2 separate regions of the Homo sapiens genome follow, and region 2 is linked to region 1. The links come from fine-mapping of genetic effects on gene expression. A gene starts in region 1. The other region holds a variant in brackets. All regions are shown on one strand. Distances are between the middles of the regions.

Evidence for each region. PIP is the estimated chance that this variant, and not a neighbour inherited with it, causes the effect.
Region 2: its variant is fine-mapped to the expression of PRUNE2 in blood mononuclear cells (TOPMed, PIP 0.96).

What each region holds. Positions count from the first base shown.
Region 1 is chr9:76,903,733-76,908,128 of GRCh38, forward strand. It overlaps PRUNE2 (prune homolog 2 with BCH domain), which reads right to left and starts at 2,382. Exons shown (of 19, transcript NM_015225.3): 1 at 2,196-2,382. The coding sequence starts at 2,231. RefSeq lists a silencer at 2,452-2,511.
Region 2 is chr9:76,699,768-76,704,163 of GRCh38, forward strand. It overlaps PRUNE2 (prune homolog 2 with BCH domain), which reads right to left. Exons shown (of 19, transcript NM_015225.3): 9 at 3,570-4,332. Among named protein-coding and RNA genes, the nearest start is that of PCA3, 62 kb to the right of the region's middle. The variant A/G (reference allele first, on the strand shown) is at 2,452.

The DNA of each region.
Region 1 (4,396 bases):
ACACGCCACCATGCCTGGCTAACTTTTGTACTTTTAGTAGAGATGAGGTTTCACCATGTTGGCCAGGCTGGTTTCGAACTCCTGACCTCAGGTGATCCACCCGCCTCAGCCTCCCAAAGTGCTGGGATTACAGGCGTGAGCCACCACACCCGGCCAAATCTTACCTTTTTATTATAAATAAATTTCCCACAAGTGAATGACATTGACTTAATTCTTTTTCTCCAAGAAAAAGGTTATCTACCCTCTAAAGGAGAATGTTATCTACTACTATATTTGAGTGTCATACATTAAGTAAAAATCTTATTACCTAGAAAATGTAACTTCTCAGGAAAATATGACACTAAAAGTGACCAACACACCTTTGCTGTGGCTGGATGTGAAAGGTTAATCATGATTTCTAGAAGAAGCTTATTCCAAGAAACGATAAAATTAGCAGTAATTGTTCTGGCTAAGACATGAAACTGGTAACAATATTTCAAACAACCGCTTCTCTTTCCTGTCCTTTTTTTTTTAATGATGTAGAGCAATTGCTCGTCTAATGAAGGGTAAATAAATTACAGATTACTTTCAACTCATTACTCGGAAATAGGGAAACTTCCATTCCAGCAACTGCTCCTCAGAATTGAGACAAACCTCTTGCTCATATCAGACCCCACAGTCTAAATGTTTATTGTGAAAATATTGATAAATAAATGTTATGGGAGTGAAAAACAGATACAGCCCAGAACTCTGTGTTTGTCATTGATTACCATTTTCATACACACACACGCACAGTTGCCAAAATTGTCTTTCATTTTTGAACATTTCTCCTTCATTACTAGGTAAAGAACAGAACATGTACTTATACTATCAGAAATGCCAAATACTTACTTGAGTTTCTGAAATTAGTATTTTCATCCATGTGCTCTAGTAAAACTATAAAAGGGTCAATAAACACAGAGATGATCACAAACTTCCTCAACTCGGAAATCTCCACAAACGTTCAACTCTCTGGGAGGTTTCAGGTAGAAAGTTTTATATAAGCACTTATCAACTTTAATGGTCTTTTACAAGATAGTTACAGTTAGACCATTGTAAGGATCACACTTCCGTCTGCACTCTGAATGGTGGTTCAGGCATCTTTGGGCCCTCCCTTCCTGCACTCCCTTTGTTGTGCGAGGGTAAATGAGTTACAGTAATAACCCTGCAAATATCCTGCCTTGTGATTAAAACATTACCTTAATGCAGACTTTACATTTTGGCTTCTATGAAGGCTTAAAGGTTAAAGGCATCATAAATTATGCATTTCTTTCTATGCCAGGCCTGTAAAAGGTGCTTTTACAGTTCTTTAAAGATATTGCTTCTAAATGAGTACAGGCTTTTCTTTTTTTTTCTGCCAAAACAGAAACATTTCCATTATGTTTATTACTGCTGTGCTGGAGAGCCAAAACAGTTTGGAATTAAGAAACTGCTAGAGTCTGTTGTTTCAGAATGTGTAGCAACTGTTAACATACACAGTGGAGTTGCCCATTCACTGTTTGGACAGTGATATGGTAAACATGGGCTAACACACAGGTCTGCTCCCGGGAGAACGATGATCTGGTAAACTCCAGAACACCAACAGTTAGAGCTTTCCCCTTCTGCCTCCGCCCCAATTTACAGATGTGAACAGGAATTAGCGAGACACAAGACACACTAGAATATCCCTAACTCCTGCAGTGGAGCAAGCTCTATTCTGTGGATTCTCCAGTACCACACATGTCCTTGCTACCCAGCACCCTGACTTCCTCACTTTTGTCACCTCCAGCTGAAGTACAGTTCTAAGGGTCTCTTTTTTTCCTTTTACACTTACACGTAATGCATCTGCAGAAGGCTGGGCTCTTTATCTCAAGGAAGACCACACCCATTTATCCCTTAGCTTTCAGGAGCAAACTGCTGATTTAGGGACCGAAGCTGGACTGAAGCGACCCAACTTCAGCCAGGCCACAACCTCCTTCAGCTCTGCACCTCGTCTGGTTGCGGTGGAGGATTCTGGAGACAGATTGCCAGCTTTAAGAGCCAGAGTTCCTGAGATTTCTTCCAGGAGACAACCCGCACACCCTGATAACTCCGTGGCAAAGTTGTTTCTTCCTCCTCTGCTGCAACACCTTTTCCTCTCCACCTTTCCATTAGCATACGCGCGCGCGCACACACACAGCTTTGCTCACTCAACTTACCAGTTTAGATTTGGCGCGTTGCAAAAATTCTTCCATGTCGTGGCTAGGGGTTTGGAACCCGGGTACTCGGAGGGGCGCAGTGGAAAATCTCGGCCCAAGGAAGACGAGCGGGGTCCCGGGAAAGTGGCCCGCCGGGGCGCAGCGACCGACTGCTCCCTCCTGCCGCTCTGAGGCGGCTGCGGCGGAGGCTGTGCTTGCGCCCTCGACCGTCTCGCCCAGGGCTCCCCGCCCCACCCCTCGCCCGGCCGCCGGCTCTGGGCACCCGACTCTGCCCTAATAAGGAAAGTGGGTGTGCCGCCCAGGAGCCCCGGGGCGCGCCGGGCACGCTCTCTGGCACGCGCCTCGGGCGCCGTGGCGCGTGGGCGGAGGTGCAGGGGTATGGCGAGGGGCTCCTCCGCCAATCGCAGGGCCGTGCTGCGGCCTCCTGACGTGGCGCGCCGAAAGCTGCTGCAACCATGGACAGCGCCCAGAAGTGCGAGCCAAGTGCAAGGGGCTGCTGCAGAGGGAGGCTCTGCCGCAGGCACCGCCGCGGTCAGCGGGGGAAGGTGGGAAGAGGGAGACGGGTCCCAGGAGAGCCCCCGCCTCGCCCAGCGCCTCACTGGCTGGCTGGCGCGTTACGGAGCACTCCGGCGGTCACTTAATGATCTGGTCGGCTGGCCTGGCCGGGGGAGGCACTCAGCTAGATTGGCGTGGGAGGGACGAGGAGAGAAAGAGGGGAGTTACTGCTGAGCTAAAAGCAGTACGACCTTGATGGATAATAATCAGAAGAGCAGGCTAGGAGGTTGGGCGAGGCTGCGTCTTTCCTCCCTACCATGAAAACATGTCCACACAACAATGGGCATCCACAGTTCACCCCAACTAGGTGCCCTTATGTCAGCCCTGGGACTAATGCATAGATACATCCTTCTGCAGTTCCCATCCACTGACATGTACCCTCAGGGAAAGCTGGGGCAATAGAACCTTGCTAAGGTGAGGTGCAGTCTGCAGACCGGCAACATCAGCATCGCTGATCTTATAGAAATGCAGAACCTCAGTCCCCTGCTCCTACTTACCAAATCAGAATCTGTGTGTTTCTATGAGACCCTCAGATGATTTCTATGCTTGTTAAAGTTTAAGAAGTACTACAATGAACAAATGAACTTATATCTACAAACCTTATTTTAAATCATGGGGTTTTGTTGTATGTAGCCTTGTCCGGTCCCCAAACACACTACATCAGGCTTTCTCTGACCTCTGGGCTTTTGCACACCACCTGTAAGATCCTTCCAGCCCTTGTCCTAGCCCCCAGCCTCAGCTGTTCTACAGAAGTAGCCTCAACCCTGACTGCACAGTAAAATCACATCGTAATCACCTGAGACTTGAGAAAGTACTGATACCAGGGCTTTATCCCAGTCCAATTAAATTAATATCTCTGGGCATGGGGCCACAGCATTTCTGTGGAAAGTGACCCAAGTGATTCTAATGTGCAGTTCAGGTGTGATGCTCTGATTCTCGATGAACTTTACATGTATCTAAATCACTTAGAGGGCTTGATGAAACACAGATTTCCGTGCCCCATCCTTAGAATTTTAGCCCTAATAGGTGTGGCTTAATGGGCCTGAGAATGTCCATGTATACAATCTCCCAGGGTTTGCCGATGCTGCTGATCCAAAAACCACACTTTGACAGTGAGTGGCGTAGAAGTTCTCTTTCTCCAGAAAGCCTCCCCAACACACTTTTCCCTTCCCATCCCCAGACTGAGTTGGTTGCCCCTTCTGTATTCCCTCATAGCAACTTACATTTTCCACTCTGCTATAAATTGCATAATTATTTGTCTATGTCCTCCACCAGGCTGTGAGCTCTGTAAAGACAGGGACCTTGCCTGTCTCATTCACTGATGGAACCCTAACATGATGTATGTTCATGTCATATACAGGTCCTCAATAAATATGTTTTAATGAAAAAAGGTACATATGGAAGGGTTTTTTTTTTTTTTGCTCTATTTCTCCTGTCTCAATGTGTGTCTGTTTTCTTGTCTGTCTCTGTGTGTATATGTGTGTCTCATGATCCAATTATTTTTTATTCAGAAGGATCCAATGAAAACAAATCAGCAGGGTCCACAGATCTGATTAAAGGAGAGTGATAAGAATATTAAGCTCCAGGTGACATTCAGGGGTGGGCTTTGTGGAAGCTGGAGATTCTGTCTGCTTTCTGTACTGACT
Region 2 (4,396 bases), 200 kb before region 1:
AAAAACCCTAACATGTAACCAAATTACCCCTTTCTTCACACATCATTCTTCCAATCATGCTTTCTTTAAAATAAACAGCTAAATGTTTCTTCCTTTTAAGAAAGGTCTGTGTGCTACAGATTACCCTGCAAATGTTCTTTGTGACTATGTAGGAAAGATCAGGCACATCCATCACTGTCTTGGGGAACTGGTATTTGATCCCCTGCTGGACAGGTCTATAGCTGGAGGATGACCAAGGTGTTGGCAAAGGATTCTGGAAAGATTGATCCTAGGGAACATGAATGCAGTGCTGCAAATCTCAAGGGAGAGAGGTTATCTTTCAGCCCTAGTAACAAGTTTTGTTAACAAGAGTCAGTAGGTGGCATATGAGGAGAAAAGGCATTTTTCTCATGCTTTCTCAGATTTTCAAAATGTGGCTTGCAGCTCTCAAAACAGTTTGGCAGCTAAGAGAGGCTGAGGCTGAAGGAGGGGAGGGAAGAAGCTGATTTGCAGCTGGTGAGTCATATTGCACATACTATGAACCTATTTCTATTTAAGAAGAGGCTTTCTTAATTTTCTTTTTTGCAGAATGGTCTTGATTTTGGATCTTCTGTTCTATGATCAGATTATGTGTCAGAAGATGTTTCCAGGTTTTTGTTTGGGAAACCACAGCTATCTCATTGTTTTGCTTCTGTGATTACCTTCCTGTCCCCATGGCTTCCTTCATAGTATTCATCCCAGTTCACTCAGCTAGCTTCTTACCCTCTTCTTTGCCTTTCCAAATTATGACCTTTCCTTTAGTGACTTTCATAAGCCCCTTGAGGAGTGCCTTCATAAGCCCCTTCTGTCATTAAAACATTTTTTAAAAATTTATTTTATAACTTTGTTGGTATAAAGACAAATCCACTTGAAAGTATAATAATTTTTTCTTCTGACTATAAAAGAAAATATTCTCATGGGCTCCTTAAAGTATCATGGGCCCTGGGCACTCTGTCTCCTGTGTCTGACAGAGAATAAGCCATTCCTGCTGCCTGCTCCATAAAGGCGCCCGAAACAGATATCTCTCCTCTTATTTCCTCACTTGTATAATTCTTGTCTCGCAGGGTTGCCCTATGTAAAGTGAAATAGCGCAGAGTGCTTAACACCTGGTCCAACAGCAAATAGCCTGTAGTTAGTACCCATTTTATACTTAAACTGACATTGGGCATTGACTAGCTTGACTTAAATATTACACTGCTATCTACCTTTTTACTTATGTCTAACTCTTTAGTTAAACTGTAAACTCCTAGACGGCTGACAGTATGTTTTAAACCAGTGGTTCTCAAGCTTTGGAGGGCATCAGGAGTTGCTGAAGCTCAGCTGGCTGGGCCTCACCCCCAGAGTTCCTGATTCCGGAGGTCTGAGTCGGAGCCGATAATTTGCATTTCTAACAAGTACTCAGGTGATACTGATGCTGCTGTTCTTAGGACCCCACTTAGAGAACCACAGTTTTAGACAACTCTTTATTCTCCCAAAATCTAGCACAGAGGGAGACTTACACATTCACAGTAAATTATTTATGCAAAAGATAATACACATGCCGGAGGGAAAATCTGCCCCATCCCCATTGTGAGAAAAGTTTCAGTACTACAAAAGCTGAGCAGAAAGGGATGAGCAAAGAAATCTTGTTGAAAGAAAAGGTGCTGGTGGCACAATTGAACACTGACTGTCATCTGTTGGATCTCGGGGCATGTGCAAAATGCACACAAGAAGCCAAACAATAGCTCAGCCAACTCATGGCTGCCTGAGTTCTGAGCTCAATCTATAACAATGCCAGCAGGGCTGCTGGGATCCATCTGCTACTCTCTTTCTGATAACGGATCTGGGGTCTCTCTGGAAGAAAATAGCTTGACAGGAAGAAAGAAGGATTAGGCCAGCTGACAATGTCTGGATTTATGAAGCTGCCCTGGAATATGGTAGAGCTTTTAACCCCTTCTGCACTTGGCTAATCCTCAACATACCCCAGCTATTCTTTCCATTGTCCTTGTTCCTTTCATCAAGAAATGTAATTTGTGAATGCCAAAGCTCCCCTGGACACATTCTGTTTCCACACAAATTAAGTTCCCAGAATTTAATACTGCAGGAAGCCTTGAGATCTTTCAGCCCAACTCACTAATTTTACGCATGAGAAAACCTAAGCCTGGGATTAATCCTAAAATGTATAATCAGTCATGGTAGAGGCAGGCTGGAATCCAGATTCCTTGACTCACTGTGGGTATGTGATGTGTATAGTCCTTTACACTCCCAAGCTGAGTAGCAAAAATATATCTTTTCTCGCTTTTTTTTTTTTTTGAGACGGAGTCTGGCTCTGTCACTCAGGCTGGAGTGCAGTCACACGATCTCGGCTCACTGCAACCTCCACCTCCCAGGTTCAAGCAATTCTCCTGTCTCAGCCTCCCAAGTAGCTGGGATTACAGGTGCTGCCACCACCCC[A/G]GCTAAGTTTTGAATTTTTAGTAGAGACGGGGTTTCACCATGTTAGCCAGGGTGGTTTCAAACTCCTGACCTCAAGTGATCCACTCACCTTGGGCTCCCAAGGTGTTGGGATTACAGGTATGAACCACCGCACCTGGCCGATATCTTTTCTCTATTACATTTTAAGGAGAAAACATGACTTTCCCCGTTACTTAAGTTACTTTTCACAATTTGTTCTTTTGTCCCTGGAAGCAGGTGGGCTTCATAAACACAAATGAAGAGAAATGAAGAATGCTAAACAGTTTCAGCAGAGACTGGAAGCTTGAGGGCAGTGATGACATCCTATTCCCTGATATATGCCCATTGGCTACCCAGAACCACGGCACAGAGCAAGCTCTCAAAAACCACATGGTGAATGAATGAATGAATGAATCACTGATTTAATGACAGTTTGCCAATTTCTCTGCCAATTAGGGAATGAATGTGTTACACTGAGATTTGGAGACTGCTGTGGAGCCTGTCTCTTATCTAACTATAAGTTAGGTGCTTACATAAAACCAGAAAATGCCTTGTATTTGAAAATATGAAAATGCCTCTGTATGCTAAGCGGTGTGTCAACTGAGAAAGTACAGGCTTTGGAGGTGGCAAGCTTCGAATCCCAGGTGTTCACTCTGGTTACTTAATTCTAGGCAAATTATAGAAAATTTCTGAGCCTTGAATCCCCCTACTCAACCCTACTCCTTCCATTCCCCCCACTGGCATGTTAGGATTAAATGAGATAATGTATGCAAACTGCCTTGCACATAGTAGGTGCTGATTAAATGTTAGTGTCACTTCCTTGTATTCCCAACTGCCTGTTGAAGAGTCATGTAGGTATTCAAGTAGGTGGGGTGGCAGTTGGGGGGTAGGTATAAGACTGAATGAAAATTGAAGGGGCTTTTTGGCTGAAAATGTACATAAATTATCATTATGGTTATAGTTATCTAGTAGCTGCTTTTACTGATGGTGTGCCTTGCATTCAATATAAGCAAAGCTGCTATCATCCAGGTATTCCTCATATTCCATAACCTCTAACCATTTCCCAGGTTTCTAAATAAATTGCTTTTCAGGAAAAAAAATAAATCTAGCTTTTTGCTTACCCATTTGGTCTTGATATCCTGGTTCCGAGCTCAAGGAACTCTGTCTCCTCCTCCATTTCCGTGTCAGGGATCATGTTTTTCTGAACAGGCTGTGGTGAAAGCATTTCCCATTCATTGTCATGGGTGACAGCCTGCAACGTAACTGCATCCGGGCCAGCCCTGCCTCGGCTCTTACTCTTCTGTGATTGGCTGACTGGACCAGAGGCTTCCTCTAGTGCCAAAGATTCTAGAGGCTTCATTTCTTCCAGAATCTGCAGCTGGGGACCCTCACCCAAGCCGAGTTCAGAGAACGGCTCCACAGTCTTGCCAGACCACCCAGGCCCTGAGTCCCTGGCATCCAGTGATGGATCACCAACCTCACTATGGCCCAAGAACATCCAACTCTGGTCTTGTGCAGGGCTTTCAAAAGATGATCTCGTATCGCTTTTAGAAGACATTTTCTCTGCAGAGAGACCTTTTCTTTCATTTAAGGAGGCTGGCTGACATGTGTCTGGGAAGCTTGCTAACTGAGTTCCCTGCAGCCCTGTTTCTTTGGAACCTACATACAATTCTAATTCAGCTATGCTTTCTCTTTCTTCACAGGTCTCTGGCTTTGAGTGTGAATTTTCTTCACGGTTTACAAGTATGTAATCCATGTGTAGTGCATGACGATCTTCATTCTTCTCTGTACATCTTTCTTCCTTGTATTCTGATTTTATCTGCTCAGGCTCTTTGGTAGGAATTGTTTTTTCTTCTTCCAATTCTGATATTTCCTTGCTGGCACCTAGAAGTGGAAGTTGAAAGTGAGAAGAGGAGAAAAAGGTTTAATTAACACATTGTGTGATTTG